2 separate regions of the Homo sapiens genome follow, and region 1 is linked to region 2. Evidence: fine-mapped expression QTL. A gene starts in region 2. The other region holds a variant in brackets. All regions are shown on one strand. Distances are from middle to middle.

Region 1 (8,341 bases), 27 kb before region 2:
TATTAGGCACACTAAATGTTTATACATTTTTTTATGTAAGAAATGTCATTTTTCAATCTTGTCAATGACACTAACCTCATTTAGAGACAACATTAATTTATGGTTCTTTGTGAACATGAGGGCTGGCTATGTCCTATTCTTCACTTCATTGCCCCCTTTTCTTGCCTGTCTCCCACTTATTGAGCCTGAAAATATCAGATACTCACTTTATCAGTATACTTGTATCTACTATGGCTATGGGATCCAGTTCTTGCAAATGGATACATCTTGAGGGAGGGAAAAACTGTCACTGGGAAAAAATTTTTTTGCCCTCCTTAACAAGTGAGAAGCACGTGAGAAAGAAGCTCTATTATTTCCTTTATCCTGTTTTTGCTTTGAATTCTTATAATGTGAGGATGTGCTATCTGAATGTACAACTGTCAACTTTCAACCTTGATGGGCCAGTTATATGCTGGATATAGAATTCTGGGTTGACAGTTCTTTTCATTCAGTACTTTAAATATGTACTACTTCCTTCTAAATTCCACGGTTTCTGATGACAAATCTGCTGTTATTCTGTTTTTCCCCTATAGGTAAAGTGTCCTCACTGTTTTCAAGATTTTATATTTAGTGGTCAGAAATTTGGTTATAATGTATGTTGGAGTGGATTTCTTTGGGATTTTCCTGTTCAGAGTTTGCTGAACTTCTTAAGTTCTTCTTGAATATGTCCTTCGCCAAGTTTGAAAATTTTAAGCTATCATTTCTTTGAATACCTTTTCAACCATATCGTCTTTCTTCTCCCCTGGGACTCTGATGGTACAAATATTAGAACTTTTAAAAATAGTCCCACAAGTCCCTGATGATTTGTTCATTTTTATTTTTCAGTATATTTTCTCTCTTTTGTTCAGATTGGGTAATTTCTAATGTTTTATCTTCAAGTTCATTCACTTCACTTTTTTTCTCTGCCCTCTCCATTCTGCTGTTCAGTTGACTTTTTAAAATTTTGGCTATTGTATTTTCAGTTTAAAAATCTCCATCTGGTTCTTTACATCTTCTATTTCTTTGTTGAGAATTCTATTTTTTCATAATTCAATAGCAAATTGAATCACTTTAAAGATAGCTGCATTAAAGTCCTTGTCAAGTAATTCCAACATCTGTGTCTTTTTGGTTTTAGTATCTATTCTCTTTTCTCATTTAGTTTTCCTGGTTCTTGGTAGGATGGATGGTTTTCAATTGTATCCTGAAATGTTTTAGTATTATGCTGAGACTCTAGATCTTATTTAAATTTGTTTTTGCAGGCCTCGTCTGACTCCGTGCAGTGAGAGATGTGGGAGCACCACCTTGTTGCCATCAGGTGGGAGTCCAAGTCCCAGCTCCCTGCTAGGCTTCTGCACACATATCTTGGCTGGGAAGGGTAGAGGTGCCTCCTTAGTGCTTCCCAGATAGCCTCCATTGACACCATGAGAGGGAACTTGTTACTGTTTGGGGTGGGGGGATGGAAGGGACACATCATTACTGCCCAGTGGGAATGAAAATCTAGGCTCCTGACTAGGGCTTCACCTTTTCTGATACTATCCCAGCAGGAATACTGGGGAAGAGACACAGGAGGGGGGTCTTGTTACAGCTGGGCAAGCAGGAGAGGTCTTAAGCTCAATACTCAGTCTTTGCTGGTGAGAGTGGGGGATGGAGCACAGTTTGTCTATTGTTTTTGGCTAGAGTAGGGCAGTTATTGTCTACAAGTTTTCTGTCTTACTAGGTTGTCCCTTTCCTGGCTTGACTAATAAAACTGGTCTTTTCTAGGGTTTGTTTTGGTCTGTATTCATTGGTGTTTCCAGGTTGACAGCTTCTCTAGCACATATATGAAGAAAAAAAAAATCTAGGGAACACACCACCATGTTATTCCTCAGGTCGCAAGGTCCCTAGCTGATCTGGCTTCTTCTTGATACCTTTCAGAGTCTCCTCAGGTTTGTTTTCTGCACACTTTCCATGGATTTTAGCTGTACTTACTAAGAAAAGGAAGAAGTCTCTATTTCATCTTGTCTCAGAACTGGAAGTCCCTGCTTGTCCTTTTACTGCCGAATAGCATTCTGTTATATGGAGGTATGACAACTTTATCCATTAATCAGTTCATAGGCATTTGAGTGATTTCACCTTTTTGTCTATTATGATTACTCGTGTATTCACCAAGCCTTTGGGTGGACATAATATTTTTGTATTAGTCCATTTTCACGCTGGTGATAAAGACATACCCAAGACTAGGAAGAAAAAGAGGTTTAATTGGACTCACAGTTCCACATGGCTGGGGAGGCCTCAGAATTATGGCTGGAGGCAAAAAGGCACTTTTTACACAGTGGAGGCAAGAGAAAATGAGGATGCAAAAGCAGAAACCCCTGATAAAACCATCAGATCTCTCTTGAGACTCATTCACTACCACGAGAACAGTATGGGGGAAACCACCCCCATGATTCAAATTATATCCCACTGGGTCCCTCCCACAACACAGGGGAAATTACAGGAGTACAACTGAAGATGAGATATGGATGGGGACACAGCCAAACAATATCAATTTTCATTACTTAATATCTAAAAATGGGATTGCTGGGTCTAATGTTAAATATGTGCTTAACTTTACCAGTAACAGCCAAACTGTTTTCAAAGTGGCTGTATTTGGCACAAAGTGTTTGGCACTTCCACTTACAATGGATCAGAGTTATAGTTGCTCCACATCCTCACCAATACTTAGAATTGACAGTTTTTAAAATTTAGCTGTTCTAAAAAATATGCAGTGGTATCTTCATTTCACTTTTGTGTTTTTCTAATAACTACAGCATCTTTTCATGTGTTTAACAATCACTATCCCTTATTTGTGAAGTTATATGTTCAATGGTGCCCCTCTTTTAACTGTATTGCTTATTGAGTCATGAGTTCTTCATATATTCTGGATACAAATCTTGATATGTGTGTGCCAATATTTTCTCCTAGGCCATAACTTGCCTCTTTATATTTTTAACAGTGTCTTTTGAAGAGCACAAACTCTTAATTTTGATGAAGTCTTAATTTAATTTATCAATTTTTTTCTTTTATCATTCATGCCTGGGAAATCTTTGCCAACCTATGAAAGTCACAGTTTCTCATATGTTTTCTTCTGGAAGTTTTATAGGTTTTATATTTAGGTCTGTAATATATTTCATTTTCATTTTATATCATTTCATATTTTTTATTATTTTTGAGACAGAGTCTTGCTCTCATTTTATTTCATATTTTATTTTATTATTTTTCAGACAGAATCTCGCTCTGTCGCCCAGGCTGGAGTGCAGTGGTGCGATTTCAGCTCACTAAAACCTCCGCTTCCTGGTTCAAGCCATTTTCCTGCCTCAGCCTCCCAAGTAGCTGGGACTAAAGGCATGCACCACAGTGTCCCACTAATTTTTTTTTTTTTTTTGAGACAGAGTCTCGCTCTGTAGCCCAGGCTGGTGTGCAGTGGCGTGATCTCGGCTCACTACAAGCTCTGCCTCCTGGGTTCACACCATTCTCCTGCCTCAGCCTCCTGAGTAGCTGGGACTGCAGGCGCCCACCACCATGCCTGACTAATTTTTTTTGTGTTTTTTAGTAGAGATGGGGTTTCACCATGTTAGCCAAGGTGGTCTGGATCTCCTGACCTCGTGATCCACCTGCCTCGGCCTCCCAAAGTGCTGGGATTACAGGCATGAGACATCTCTCCTGGACAACTTTTTTGTATTTTTAATAAAGATAGGGTTTCACCATGTTGGCCAGGCTTGTCTTGAACTCCTGACCTCAACTGATCCGCCTACCATGGCCTCCCAAAGTGCTGGGATTACAGGTGTGACCCACCATGCCCCCCCATGTAATCCATTTTAAAAAGTTGATACTTTGTATATGGTACAGGTAAAGGTTGAGGTTAATTTTTTTACATATGAATGGTGAATAGTTCTTACAGTGTTAGTTGAAATAACTATTTGTTCTTCATTAAATTAACCTGGAATTTTCTTATGGGAATCAACTGACTATACGTGTAAGGGTTTATTTCTGAACTCTATTTTGTTCCACTGGTCTATATGTCCATTCTTACTCAGATACTACAGTCTTGATTACATATAGCTTTCAGTAAATCTTGAAATCAGATAGTATGGGTCCTCCAACTTATTATTTTTCAAAAGTATTTTGGCTATTTTAGGTTTGCATTTCCATATAAATACTTACTTATTTTTACCTTTTTTAGAGACAGGATTTTGCTGTATTGCCCAGGCTTGTCTCAAACTCCTGGGCTCAAGCAGTCTGTCTGTCTCAGCCTCCCAAGTAGCTAGGACTATAGGCCTCCTGAGTAGCTAGACAGCTTGCATGCCATTGTGTCTGGCCCATGTAAATTTTAAACTCATCTTATTGATTTCCTTAAAAAAATACTCAAACAAGGCCAGGCATGGTGGCTCATGCCTGTAATCCCAGCACTTTGGGAGGCTGAGGCGGGCGGATCATGAGGTCAGGAGATC[G/A]AGACCATCCTGGCTAACACAGTAAAACTCCATCTCTACTAAAAATACAAAAAATTAGCCGGGCGTGGTGGCGGGTGCCTGTAGTCCCAGCTACTCAGGAGGGTGAGGTAGGAGAATGGCGTGAACCCAGAAGGCGGAGCTTGCAGTGAGCCGAGATCACTCCACTGCACTCCAGCCTGGGTGACAGAGCAAGACTCCATCTGGTGGGGGTGGGAGGCGGGAATTCACAAACAAAAATCTGCCTGGTTTTGTTTTTTGTTTGTTTGTTCTGGGAGATCCAGTGCTGGCTGATGCCTGGATTTTGACTGGCTGAACTTACAGATCAACTTGGGGAGAAGTAATGTCTTTGAAATATTGTCTTACAGCCCATGACCATGGCGTAGCTCTCCATTTTAGATTTTCTCTATCACACAGAATCTTGCACATATTTTATTAGACTTATCCCTAAAATATTTCATGTTTTTGATGCTATTATAAACAGCATTTCTAAAAATTCCAATTTTAATTACTCATTGCTATAGAATAGTATTTAGAAATATGTTTTAGTTTTTTTATTGACCTTGTATGCTGGCTCAATTCACTTTTCGGTTCTAGTAGCTTGTTTGCAGTTTCTTTGGGATTTTCTACATAAATGACTAGTCTGGTAATCAACAGGGTTTGTTTTCCTTTCCTACGTGTGTGTGTGTGTGTGTCTGTGTGTCTGTGTGTGTGCGTGCACACCATTTTAAAAGGAAGATTAAATACCTGATAAGTTGATACCGATATTTCCAATTAAAATTAAAGTCTACAGGGTTTTTACTTAACATCTTCTATCTCACATTTGTATCTCCTTTTTCCATTGAGAATTCTGGTTCTCAAGGACACAAGGGATGAAGAATTAGAATACCCCATATTGCTTACCCAATAATCTCGAGATAATGACAATAACACTGCCAGTAATATGATTACTTAAAAGTTTGAATAATTTTTTCATATATTCTCTCTCCATTCTCTAGTAGTTGTGCTGAATCAAAATTGTTAAAGCATATAGTATCCATTACAAACATTATTCCTCATTTAGTCTTAGTCTTGGGTCCACAAGAAAATAAATATTTAATGTTCATATTAGAGTTTAATTTGTATCTCTGCAGTCAATTTGGTTGTCTGAAGCTCATTGTCATTCTCTAGCAAACTAGTTTTGCTACAGATACTGTTCATGTTCTGTTTTTATGCAGTGATTTGGAGTGACTCAAAAATAATGTACTATTACCACCATCTTCCCTAAATCCATATGATGATGACTTTTTGAAAAGATCAGGCCAGATGTCTTGTGAAATGTCCTACAAATTCTAGAAATCGCTACCCATTAGCACACAGAGACATCCTTTTTTTTTTTTTAAAGCATTGCACAATATTCCGTTGTGTGGATATTCCAGTTATACAATCAGCCTTCTATTGATGGGCATCTGTGTTGTCGCCAATCCTTTGCCACTACAATGTTGCAATAAATAACCTTGTGCATGTGTTGTTTATTTGTGGAAGTTTATCTTCAGTGTAGATTCCTAACAGTGGGATTACTGAACCAAAAGTAAATCTGTCCACCATGTCTTTAGCTTTTTGCAAAAACCCTTTTATACGGGTTGTACCATTTTATACTTCTACCAGCAATGAATGAAACTGACTGTTTCTCTGCAGTCTACTCAATGAAGTTTTCAATCTTTTGGTATGGCAGGATAATTTTACCTCGTATTTATCTTATAAGTGAGGGTCAGTATCTTTTCTTATGCTTATGTGTCATTTTCATTTTTTTTTTCCTGTGAAACATCTGCTTACTTTTTTGTTTGTTTGTTTTTTCTATTGTGCTTGGTGATTCTGAGATGTTAGAGGCTTTCCTCATTGCCTTAAGATCATCCACCCATATTTTCTTCTAATGCTTGAATGTTTCCATTTTTTATATTCATTCTTGGTCCCTGTTGAAATGACCAATTCCAGGGGCAGGAAAAGTATCAAACAATGCTGAAATATATTGCCAGAAAGAAAGGAAGTACTAAAAAAACAATAAGGACACATCAAAGCACACAGAAACAAGATGGAAACTGGCTCCTACTGGCCAAATCTGGGACAAATTGAACAATAAAATACGTGTTAGATTATAATTCACAAAATAGAATTTGCCGGTGCATGCTGATATATGTGAGTGAATCAATAAATAAGTAAATGGGAGAAGGATAATCTCTTCCATACAGTAGAATTCTAACTAGTAAATGTAGAAGAAATCATGGAATTAGAAAACCACCATTTGGCAACCAGGACAGTAATAACTGTTTCAAGCAAGAATTCTCAATAGATGCTAAAAGGAGTAAGTGAAAGTAATAACAAACAGATTATTCACAGGGTTTCAAAATGTCTCCCAATAAGAAATGACTCAGGTTGGGTTCTCTGGAATCAGATGCTAAGACAGAGTTTGGGGTGCAATGTATTTACTAGGGACCAGCATATGTGAAAGGAAGGGGGAAGAGGTATAATTGGGCTAAGGGAGCAATCTCACTGCAATATAGTCCTGGCTTCAGCAACCGGCAGGGAGCTCTGAAGTGGGCAGTTCCACCCCATCTCACTCAGGCATTGTGTGCAAGCTGCACCAGGAAGGGTGTGACCTTGGGTGATATGAGTCATGCAGAAAGTGCTGGAAGCTATCTGCTGACTGCACTGACCAAAACTGAGCAACAAGTCCTTCCTCAAAAAGGAATCCGTGTGATGTGGTGGTCTAATAGAATATTAATTACAAAGAAAAACTGTACCTTTATAGAATGGAGAAACATAGCACACACTACCTTGGGTGTTGATCAACATTAATGGTCCCCAAAATGTTATAATGACACAGCATTACTTCTGTGACATTCTTGCTGAAAATACATATAGGCACATCTCATAAGGTGCTTTGATTTATTGTGCTTTGCAGACATTATGTTTTTTACAAATCGAAGGTTGTGGCAACCCTGCATTAAGCAAGTCTATCTGTGCTATTTTTCCAACACTTTGTGCTCACTTTGTGTCTCCGTGTCACATTTTGGTTAATTCTCACAGTATTTCAACCTTTTTCATTATCATAATATCTGCTCTGGTGCTCTGTGATCAGTGATCTGTGACGTTACTATTGTAATTGTTTTGGAGTACCACCAACTGCATCCATATACGATGGAAAACTTAATAAATGTGGTGTTTCTACCACTCCACTGACCAGACATTCCTCTATCTCTCTCCGTCTCCTTGGGCCTCCCTATTTCCGGAGACACAACAATACTGCAATCAAGCCAATTAATAATCCTACAATGGCCTCTAAGTGTTCAGGTGAAAGGAAGAGTCACACACCTGTCACTTTAGATCAACAGCTAGAAATGACTAAGCTTAGTGAGAAAGACATGTTAAAAACCAAGACAGGATAAACGCTAGGCCTCTTGGGCCAAAGTTAGCCAAGTTGTGAATGCCAAGGAAAAGTTCTTGAAGAAAATTAAAAGTACTACTCCAGTGGAGTGGCACTAACTTTGGCCCACGTTGTGTACGTGTACCCTAGAACTTAAAGTATAATAAAAAAAATTAATTTTAAAAAAAGTACTACTCCAGTGAATAGATGAATAAGAAAGTGCAATGAGGCTGATACAAAAAAAGTTTGAGTTTTCTAGACAGAGAGCCAAACCAGCCACAAACATTCCCTTAAGCCAAAGCCTAACTCAGAGCAAAGTCCTAACTCTCTTTAATTTTGTGAAGGCTGAGAGAGATGAGAAAGCTGCAGGAAAAAAGTCTTAAGCTAGCAGAAGTTGATTTATGAGGTTTAAGGAAATAAGCCATCTCCATAACACAAAAGTACAGGACGAAGC
Region 2 (8,308 bases):
ATGAGGGCCTCTTGGTAATCAACAATTTGTTCAACTTACAGCCAACTGTGGGCCAGGTATTTTTATTGTCTGAGATATTTAGGAATCTTCTGCAGCTGCCTTTTAGGAGAAAAGTACTTTATATAAATATATCATATACAGGACTGAAATCTGCCCTGAGTGTCCAGATCTGGACACCAAATAGATTAGTCATTAATTGTATAGTGGTTAACAGCATGGGCTTTGGAGCCAAACCCCTTGAATTCCAATTCTTACCATGCTACTTACTGGCTCTATAACCGTGGACAAATTACTTAACCTTATGGGGATCATTATTAAGATTAAATGAATTAATACATACATGTAAAGATATAATTATGATCTTCTCCTCCTAGTTTGATAAAGAATACCAGAATCTAAGAATATCCTATAGGCCGGGCACAATGCCTCATGCCTGTAATCCCAGCACTTTGGGAGGCCAAGGTGGGTGGATTGCCTGAGGTCAGGAGTTTGAGACCAGCCTGACCAACAAGGTGAAACCCCCGTCTCTACTAAAAATACAAAAAAAATTAGCTGGGCATGGTGGCGGGCACCTGTAATCCCAGCTACTTGGGAGGCTGAGGCAGGAGAGTCACTTGAACCCAGGAGGCAGAGGTTGCAGTGAGCCAAGATCGCATCATTGCACTCCAGCCTGGGCAACAAGAGTGAAACTCTGGCTCAAAAAATACATATATAAATAAAAAGAATATCCTATAAAAGTATTAAAACAGCACTTTTAAGTAAAACTCACACTTCCCTCCATTTAAGTCCTCCTATAAAGTAATATATCTATACATATTTCAGTGGGAGGGTCAGTACTTATGAAAACAAATACATACAAGTAGTTTAAAGGATAGTTTTAATATGAGTAAATGCACTTTTATGCTCAACTATTTTATACTCCAGTGACACTGCAGACCTCCCAAATTCTCTCTAGTTAAAATGAGATAACTCAGAAGTTAATACAGCCTCTACATAAGACCTTTCACCACCAAATATTTTAAGATTCTGCCAAGCATCAGGCCATAGTTATAGAATGTTTTAACTTAATGAAATTGTAGGGTATAATCTCTACAGAATGGGCCTCAAGCCTAACTAAGTGATCTCCAAAAATATGCCAACCCCTTTATCCCCCCACACCATTATGGACCAAACAATTACAGTTCCATTGACCCTCATAGCTTACTGAAGTTATATGAAAGAACGGAAAGATGTGGGTCACATTCCAATAATCAATTGTGTGACCTAACCAAAAGGACCTATTCGCTCAGTCTCACGTCCTCCACCTGTAGAGATACCTATGCTGTGACATACTGAAAGAATTAAAGGAGAGGGTGAATGAAATGTCCCCTCTATGCCCACTAGCACATGGCACTTCTCAATTCATGTTCATTTCTCCTTCTTTATTTGAAGTGGTGAAAGAAATCAGAAGCAATTTAAGACTTTTCACAGCACTGTTTGATCTCATTTCTTAATATTTTTGACAAAAACCATCTACAGGTTAAGCTGTGGAATCTCAACATAAATGCACATTTTTAGTGTTCCTTCAGCTTTACTTCAAAACCACTACGGGAATTAAAATACGGTAGGAATAATCTTCTGACAGAATAGGAATGACATAACTTTTAGAATAAATGCCCACTTCAGAGTAAATAAGAAGATAAAGGAGGTATCATCATAAGTTGATGAGAATCCTATGATCACTACCACTTTCTGGAAGTAGCTCCCAGAAATATTAAAATCTAGTAATTTTAATTGACTCAAACATCATTTTTAGTAAACATTCTGGTATCCAAAAGCATGAGACTAAACAATGATATTGAAAAGATTAATATTATTTGGAAATGTATTCCACAACTAATTTATTCTGGGCCTACCTGCAGGGATAGTCGTCCCAAAATTAAACGTTCTATAGGTACAAAGTAATTTTAAAACTGGATGTTTTAATTTCAAAACTTATAAATTTTCTGAGCCAAAGCATTCTCTTCCATGTATAGAACTAGGGTTTTAACCAAATACTTGGTTGAAAGCTGTACAAATCCAAACATAATTGAAGTCTTGATTCTGCCACTTTCAAGAGTGGGTGGTACAGATTCTTCTCATTCATAACATTAGTTTCTAGCTGATGTGGTTCGTTATTCAAAGAACACTTAACAGTCCTTCATAAAATGGTAGATTCAGTCTAAGGACTAAGAGTAGAACATTCTGGAATAACAATAACGTTTACAAACACCACTTACCATTTGGTCCTAGGTTTTCATAAAAAATTGATATAGGCAGCAGATGTATACAGAACACCCTAGTTGAGGCCAGTTTAAGTGTAAAATACCCACATACTCAAAGCCTAAGAACAATTTACTTAAGACAAAACAATGTTGGAGAAATTGCCCAATATCACAAATGTAGCAGTCACCCCTAAACAGTGTTTTTGATTAATGACAACCAATTTCCTTCAATCTTAAAGGCAACCAATTCAAGCCAGTAGGTTAAATCCTTGAAGTATACTGCAATGCTACTCCTTTTTTCCAGGGAATCAGATGAGAATTTTGTGCTAAGAACTTATCAGGAAAATGGAAGTAACGAAAATTAACACGCCAAAATATGAGTATAAGAAATATAAGCCTCCTTAATAATCAGCCAAGAAAAAAATAATCAGGTTATGTCTCCTCCCACCCATTCTTTCTGTCTTAACCTTCTGCAAAAGCCGGCTGGATTCAGAGTAGAAATAAACGAATTTTACAATGAGTCGAGTACCACCAAAAATCAAAAGTGGGAGCTTACTCGTCCTCCAGGTCTGACCCGCCTCCAGCCCGAGGCCACCAAAAGACACACCTCCCTTCCCCCAACCCGCCACAGCCGGCTCTACAGGTAACAGGCGTTTCTTCTCGCGCAGTTTGAACAAAAACAATCCAGAAGGAACAGATTTGGTTTTTTAAAAAAAATGAACAAAAGCCAAAAAAGCCACAAACACAACCTAAACCTTCTAAGAAGCTCGACTACTCCCGTTCTGCACGTTCCTTCCCAGAAGGATGCAGACCCCCGGTGTCGGCGGGAACCAGGAAGCTCTTGGGGCCTCCCTGGGCCAGACCTGCACCCGGGAAGCCGCCGCAAGGCTTCAGGAGCCCCAGGTCGCCCCAAGGCCGCGCCGCAGGATTGAACAAAGCGGCGGGTGCAGCAACCTCGGCGCTTCCGAGCGCGTTCGGGGCCGGACGCCCGGCGTCCGGCGCTGGCTCCAGAAAGGCGGCGGGTGTGGGGCGCAGAGGCCTATCTCGCGCCCTAGCCGCGGCCCGCGCCCCGCCGCAGTCCCCGGGGACGGTACTCACACACGCAGAGCTCCACCACGTACGCGTAGTAGGACCAGACGACCACGAAGGTGATGAAGAGCACCGGCACCCAGCCCACGACGCGCTGGCAGCAGCGCCACAGCGTCCAGGGCGCCATGTTCCGCTGGCGGCTGCCGAGCCCCGCGTCCCACCGTTCTGGGGAGCGCGGGAGCCCCGGCGACGGTGACTCGGACGCTCCAGGCGGCTGCTGGTCCAGCTCCCCCGCCTCCGAGGCAGGACTTGTGGGAGCAAAAGTCCGAGGCGCCGCCGGGACTCCTCCCGTCCCGGCGCCCAGCCAGGCCCCGCCCCCACCCCACATCCCGTCGCCCCCCTCCCCCCGCGTCCGTCCCCGCCAGCCCGCCCGCCGCGGGCCGCGGGCCGCCCCCGGTCTCCGCGTCGTTGGGGCGGGGTTTCCGCGGCCGGGGAGGCGGTGAGGGGGCGGGGCCGCAGCTCGGGACCGCCCATGGGGCGTGGCGGGGCTGGATGCGGACAGGCTGGGCGGACGCGGGAGGCCGGGGAAGGAGAGGCGAAAAACACGCCCTTGATGGATGAGAGGGACAGGGGATAGCTTTTGTGGATCGAGACTCAATAGGGGAGGGAGACTATGGAAATGATTCCTTAGCTGATTTGTGGATCTTGGCCCTCTCTGTGTACAGAACTCGCTCCACTGGGGTTCCTGGGACATTGAGTAGTTGGGGCACTGTTTCAAACATGACAAGGCCATTCCCCACTCAGTGTGCGAAGAATGCACATTGTTAGAAGGCTCCTCCTGTGATTTTTATGTTCGTCCATCTTGGCGGAACCCCTCCCTTTCTTGAAGATGGAACGGTAGATACCTGTAATTTCGGGTAGAAGCCATGTAGGGTCCATCAGTTTGATTCGTAACCCAAATTTAAGATTGAGTAGCGAGAAGGAAAGGGCATGTAAATGACCCTCTCCTTGCCCCGCAAACGACTAAGGAAATTTAAAGAATTTATTTACAACTAGAGGTTGCTAAGCAATGACGATAATCATATAGAACCCAGAAGCATCACTGTGAAGACTTCACAATGCAAGGTCAGACGCATTAGAAGGGATTCCAGACCGCAATCTTCATACCAGTTCCTGCTACTAGCATTCAGTTTTGGTTAGAATGAATTTTTGTGTTTGTTTTTTGAAACAGGGTCTTCTCGCTCTGTCGCCCAAGCTGGAGTGCAGTGGCACGACCTGGGCTCATTTAAGCCTCGACCTCCCTGCTAAAGCACTCCTCCTGCTTCAGCCTGCAGAGTAGCAGGGACTACAGGCCCGCCACCATGCCCAGCTGATGTTTGTATTTTCTGTAAAAACTAGGTTTCGCCCTGTTGCCATGCTGGCCCTGAACTCCAAGGCTCAAGGAATCCCAACCCCTCTCCGCCTCCACCTCCCAAAGAAGTGCTGAGATTACAGGTGTGAGCCACCACGACCGGCCTACACTGAGCTTTAAATTAGCTACTGCTCACTAAAGTCTCCATGAAGAAGACGTCACCCTTTGCTGTGTCAGAGAAATGTAGTAAAAGCGAGTAAGTATTTAATCACTGCACACTGCTGCTTGAGTAATAAAGCATGTATAAAAGATTCTGTTCTCCCTGATTTTGTGCCTTAAAAGTCATATTAGTTAGTGGCCTAGTTGACAGTAGGTTTAGGTTCAAGTTCAACTAGTTTTCCAGAGAGGCTGCTTAGGAGGGTTAGACCTCAACATAGAATTCGGATGGACATGGAAGAACATAAAGCCGTTTCTCCTCTATGTCATCTCTACGTACCAAAACCATGCTGCTAGAGCTCAGCACAAAGCCATGTCCTTTACAAGCTCCAGGGCTGCTAGAAATGATCTTTCACGACATTTTGTTTATAACCTAACTATAAAACTGTCACATTCGTTTCCTAGGGTGACTATAACAAAGTACCACAAAACTGGGGAATAATAGAAATTGGTTGTCTCACAGTTTAGGAGGGTAGGTGTCCCAAATCAAAGTGTTGGCAAGGATATTGGATATGGTTTGGATGTTTGTCCCCTCCAAATCCCATGTTGAAATGTGATCCCAGTGTTGGAGGTGGGACCTGGTGGGAGGTATTGGATCATTAGGGTGGATCCCTCATGAATGGTTTAGTGCCATCCCCTTGGATGAGGGGTTCTTTCTCTAGTAGTTCACATGAGATCTGGTTATTTAAAAGAGCCTGATCCTTCCCCCACTCTCTCTCTTGCCCCCTCTCTTGCCATGTGACATGCTGGCTCCCCTTTGCCTTCTGCCGAGAAGGCAGAAGTCTATCTCTGTGGTCCTGTGTCTTCAGAGATAAGGATGTTCCTTTGTCTGGGTAGAGGGAGGGCACCTCTTGAATAACAGTCTTAGGTCTGCCTTCAGGGGAAGGCCTGAGACGCTTTTGCTAGTGCTATGGCCTGCTTCAGGGGAGAAGAGCGAGAGGAAGGTGAGAGGGACCTTCCTGTTGCTGTTGTCTCCAATGTTGTCTCCAACTGATGATTGGAAGCTTCTTGAGGCCTCACCAGAAGCATATGCTGACCCCATACTTTCTGTACAGCCTGGAGAGCTGTGGGCCAATTAATCCACTTTTCTTTATAAATTACCCAGTCTCAGGTATTCCTTTATATCAGTGCAAGAATGACCTAACACAGCCATGTGCCCTCTGAAACTTGTAGGGGAGAATTCTTCTTTGCTTCTTCCTAGCCTTTGGTGGTGACCATTAGTCCATGGCATCCCTTGACCTGCAGTGGCAGTGGCATCACCCCAATATCTACCGCTATCCTCAGGTGGCATTCTCCTTTCCTGTCTCTCCCCTTATATTGGGTTAAGGGCCTACCCTACTCTAGTATGGCCTCATCTTAACTAATTACATCTACAACAGGCCCACTTCCAAATAAGGCCACATTCTTTTTTTTTTTTTTTTCAGTAGAGTCTTGCTCTGTCACCCAGGTTGGAGTGCGGTCACGTGATCTTGGCTCACTGCAACCTCCACCTCCCAGCTTCAAGTGATTCTCATGCCTCAGCCTCCCGAGTAGCTGGGATTACAGGCGTGCACCACCACGTGAGGCCTGCATTTTGTATTTTTGCTAGAGATGGGGTTTCCCCATGTTGGCCAGGCTGGTCTCAAACTTTTGGAGTCAAGTGATTTGCCTGCCTCGGCCTTCCAAAGTGCTGGGATTACAGGCCTAAGCCACCTCGCTCAGCCAATAGTTTTGATACTCATTGAAATATGTGATCTTGCCTACTACCTTGTAAGGTTCTAGAAGGTAGAAAGTATTTCTTGCACATCCACAGTGACTTGCAGTAGGAAATATTTAGTAAGAAATTGTTGAACAAATATTTAAAGTTTTCTATTGTTATCCAGTTACTCCTCCTAACTTCTGGCGTTGCCAACCAGATTACATTAGCTTGTGATTTCTTTTTTTTCTTTTTCTTTTTTTTTTTTTTGAGACAGAGTCTTGCTGTGTTGCCAGGCTGGAGTGCAGTGGTGCAATCTCAGCTCCCTGCAACCTCCGACTCCCTGGTTCAAGCGATTCTCCTGCCTCAGCCTCCCCAGTAGCTGGGATTACAGGCACACACAACCACGCCCAGCTAATTTTTTGTATTTTTTGTGAGCCACCGTGCCCGACCAGTTTCTGATTTCTAAATGACTGCCACATATTCTAAGGTGATTTATGTGGGATCTAGAGAATATTTCTGATCTATGTCCTTGTACAATGAGGACAGACACATTTTTGAGGAGGCAATATTTTTATTATTTTGGACTCTTTCTGTCGTAAATGGTTACAGACATGAATTAATGTTCTTTGCTTGTGAGCAATAGAAGCCAGTATCTTAAACCCCTTCCTTCCATTTCCATGTTGGGCTTGTGATTTCACTCCATCTTTGCTACTGGTTTTGACAACAGGGAATCATTTAAAGACTTTAGGCAGTGTAGTGACGTGAGCAGAATTACATTTTATAACAATCACTCTGGCTGTGGTAAGAAGAACAGATTGGAGGGAGGAAAGTCTAGAGGCAAGGAAACCAGTTGGGAGGCCGTTGCAGTCGTAGAGCAAGAGATGATGCTAGCCTGACCTTGATTTGTGGCAGTGGAGAAGGTAATAAGAAAGCTACTTAGGGCTGGGTGCGATGGCTCACGCCTGTGGGCCCAGCACTTTGGGAGGCCACAGTGGGCAGATCACCAGGTCAGGAATTTGAGACCAGCCTGTCCAACATGGTAAAACCCCATCTCTACTAAAAATACAAAAAAAAAAAAAAAAAATTAGCTGGGCATGGTGGCGGGGCGCCTGTAATCCCAGCTGCTCCGTAGGCTGAGGCAGGAGAATTGCTTGAGCCTGGGAGGTGGAAGTTGCAGTGAGCTGGGATCACGCCATTGCACTCCAACCTGGGCAACAGAGCAAGACTCTCTCCAAAAAAAAACAAGGAAGCTACTTAGGACTTCAGGCCAGCTTTGATGTACCCACTGTACTCCAAAACATAGCAATGGTAGATAGAAAACAAAAGACAAAGTCAGCCTCAAACCCTCATCCCCAACCTCTATCCCTTTCCATTCTCTAACAAAAGAGAATTGTGCTGATTGATCTCTAGGATAATGGCTTTTCATGGAGACTGGAGGACACCATGCAGCTCCCCAACCTGGAAGTAAACCAAGCTGCCAACTAGCCTGGGGACTAGATCTGTGGTTTCCCCATTATAACCACCATCCAGGAACCTGAAAATACCATTTTAAATTCTAGTTCTGGACTGAGAGCTGGGGAAGAATGAGGGCAAGTAGAGGCAGCTATGAAACGATTAGACGGGGTTTATGGAAACCATGTACATATAAATGTGGAAAGAGTGAAGAAGAAAATACAAACAATTCACTAGTTCAAAATTAAACCACAATTTTAAAACACATGAAGAGATCTAATACTGAAAAAGGATGCAAATAAAAATCAACAATCAGAACTAGAGTTCACTCAAAATAAA

What was found. PIP is the estimated chance that this variant, and not a neighbour inherited with it, causes the effect. A credible set is the group of variants that fine-mapping cannot tell apart.
Region 1: its variant is the best candidate, but not a certain one, in a credible set for the expression of ZDHHC20 in whole blood (TOPMed, PIP 0.53).

What each region holds. Positions count from the first base shown.
Region 1 is chr13:21,428,927-21,437,267 of GRCh38, forward strand. All of the region lies in intron 1 of ZDHHC20 (zDHHC palmitoyltransferase 20), which reads right to left. Among named protein-coding and RNA genes, the nearest start is that of ZDHHC20, 26 kb to the right of the region's middle. The variant G/A (reference allele first, on the strand shown) is at 4,488.
Region 2 is chr13:21,455,713-21,464,020 of GRCh38, forward strand. ZDHHC20 (zDHHC palmitoyltransferase 20) reads right to left here and starts at 3,591. Exons shown (of 13, transcript NM_001330059.2): 1 at 3,342-3,591. The coding sequence starts at 3,459. It overlaps LOC124903131 (a long non-coding RNA gene), which reads left to right and starts at 3,835. Exons shown (of 2, transcript XR_007063713.1): 1 at 3,835-4,467; 2 at 4,671-4,934. RefSeq lists a silencer at 3,504-3,883, an enhancer at 3,747-3,916 and a cis regulatory region at 3,832.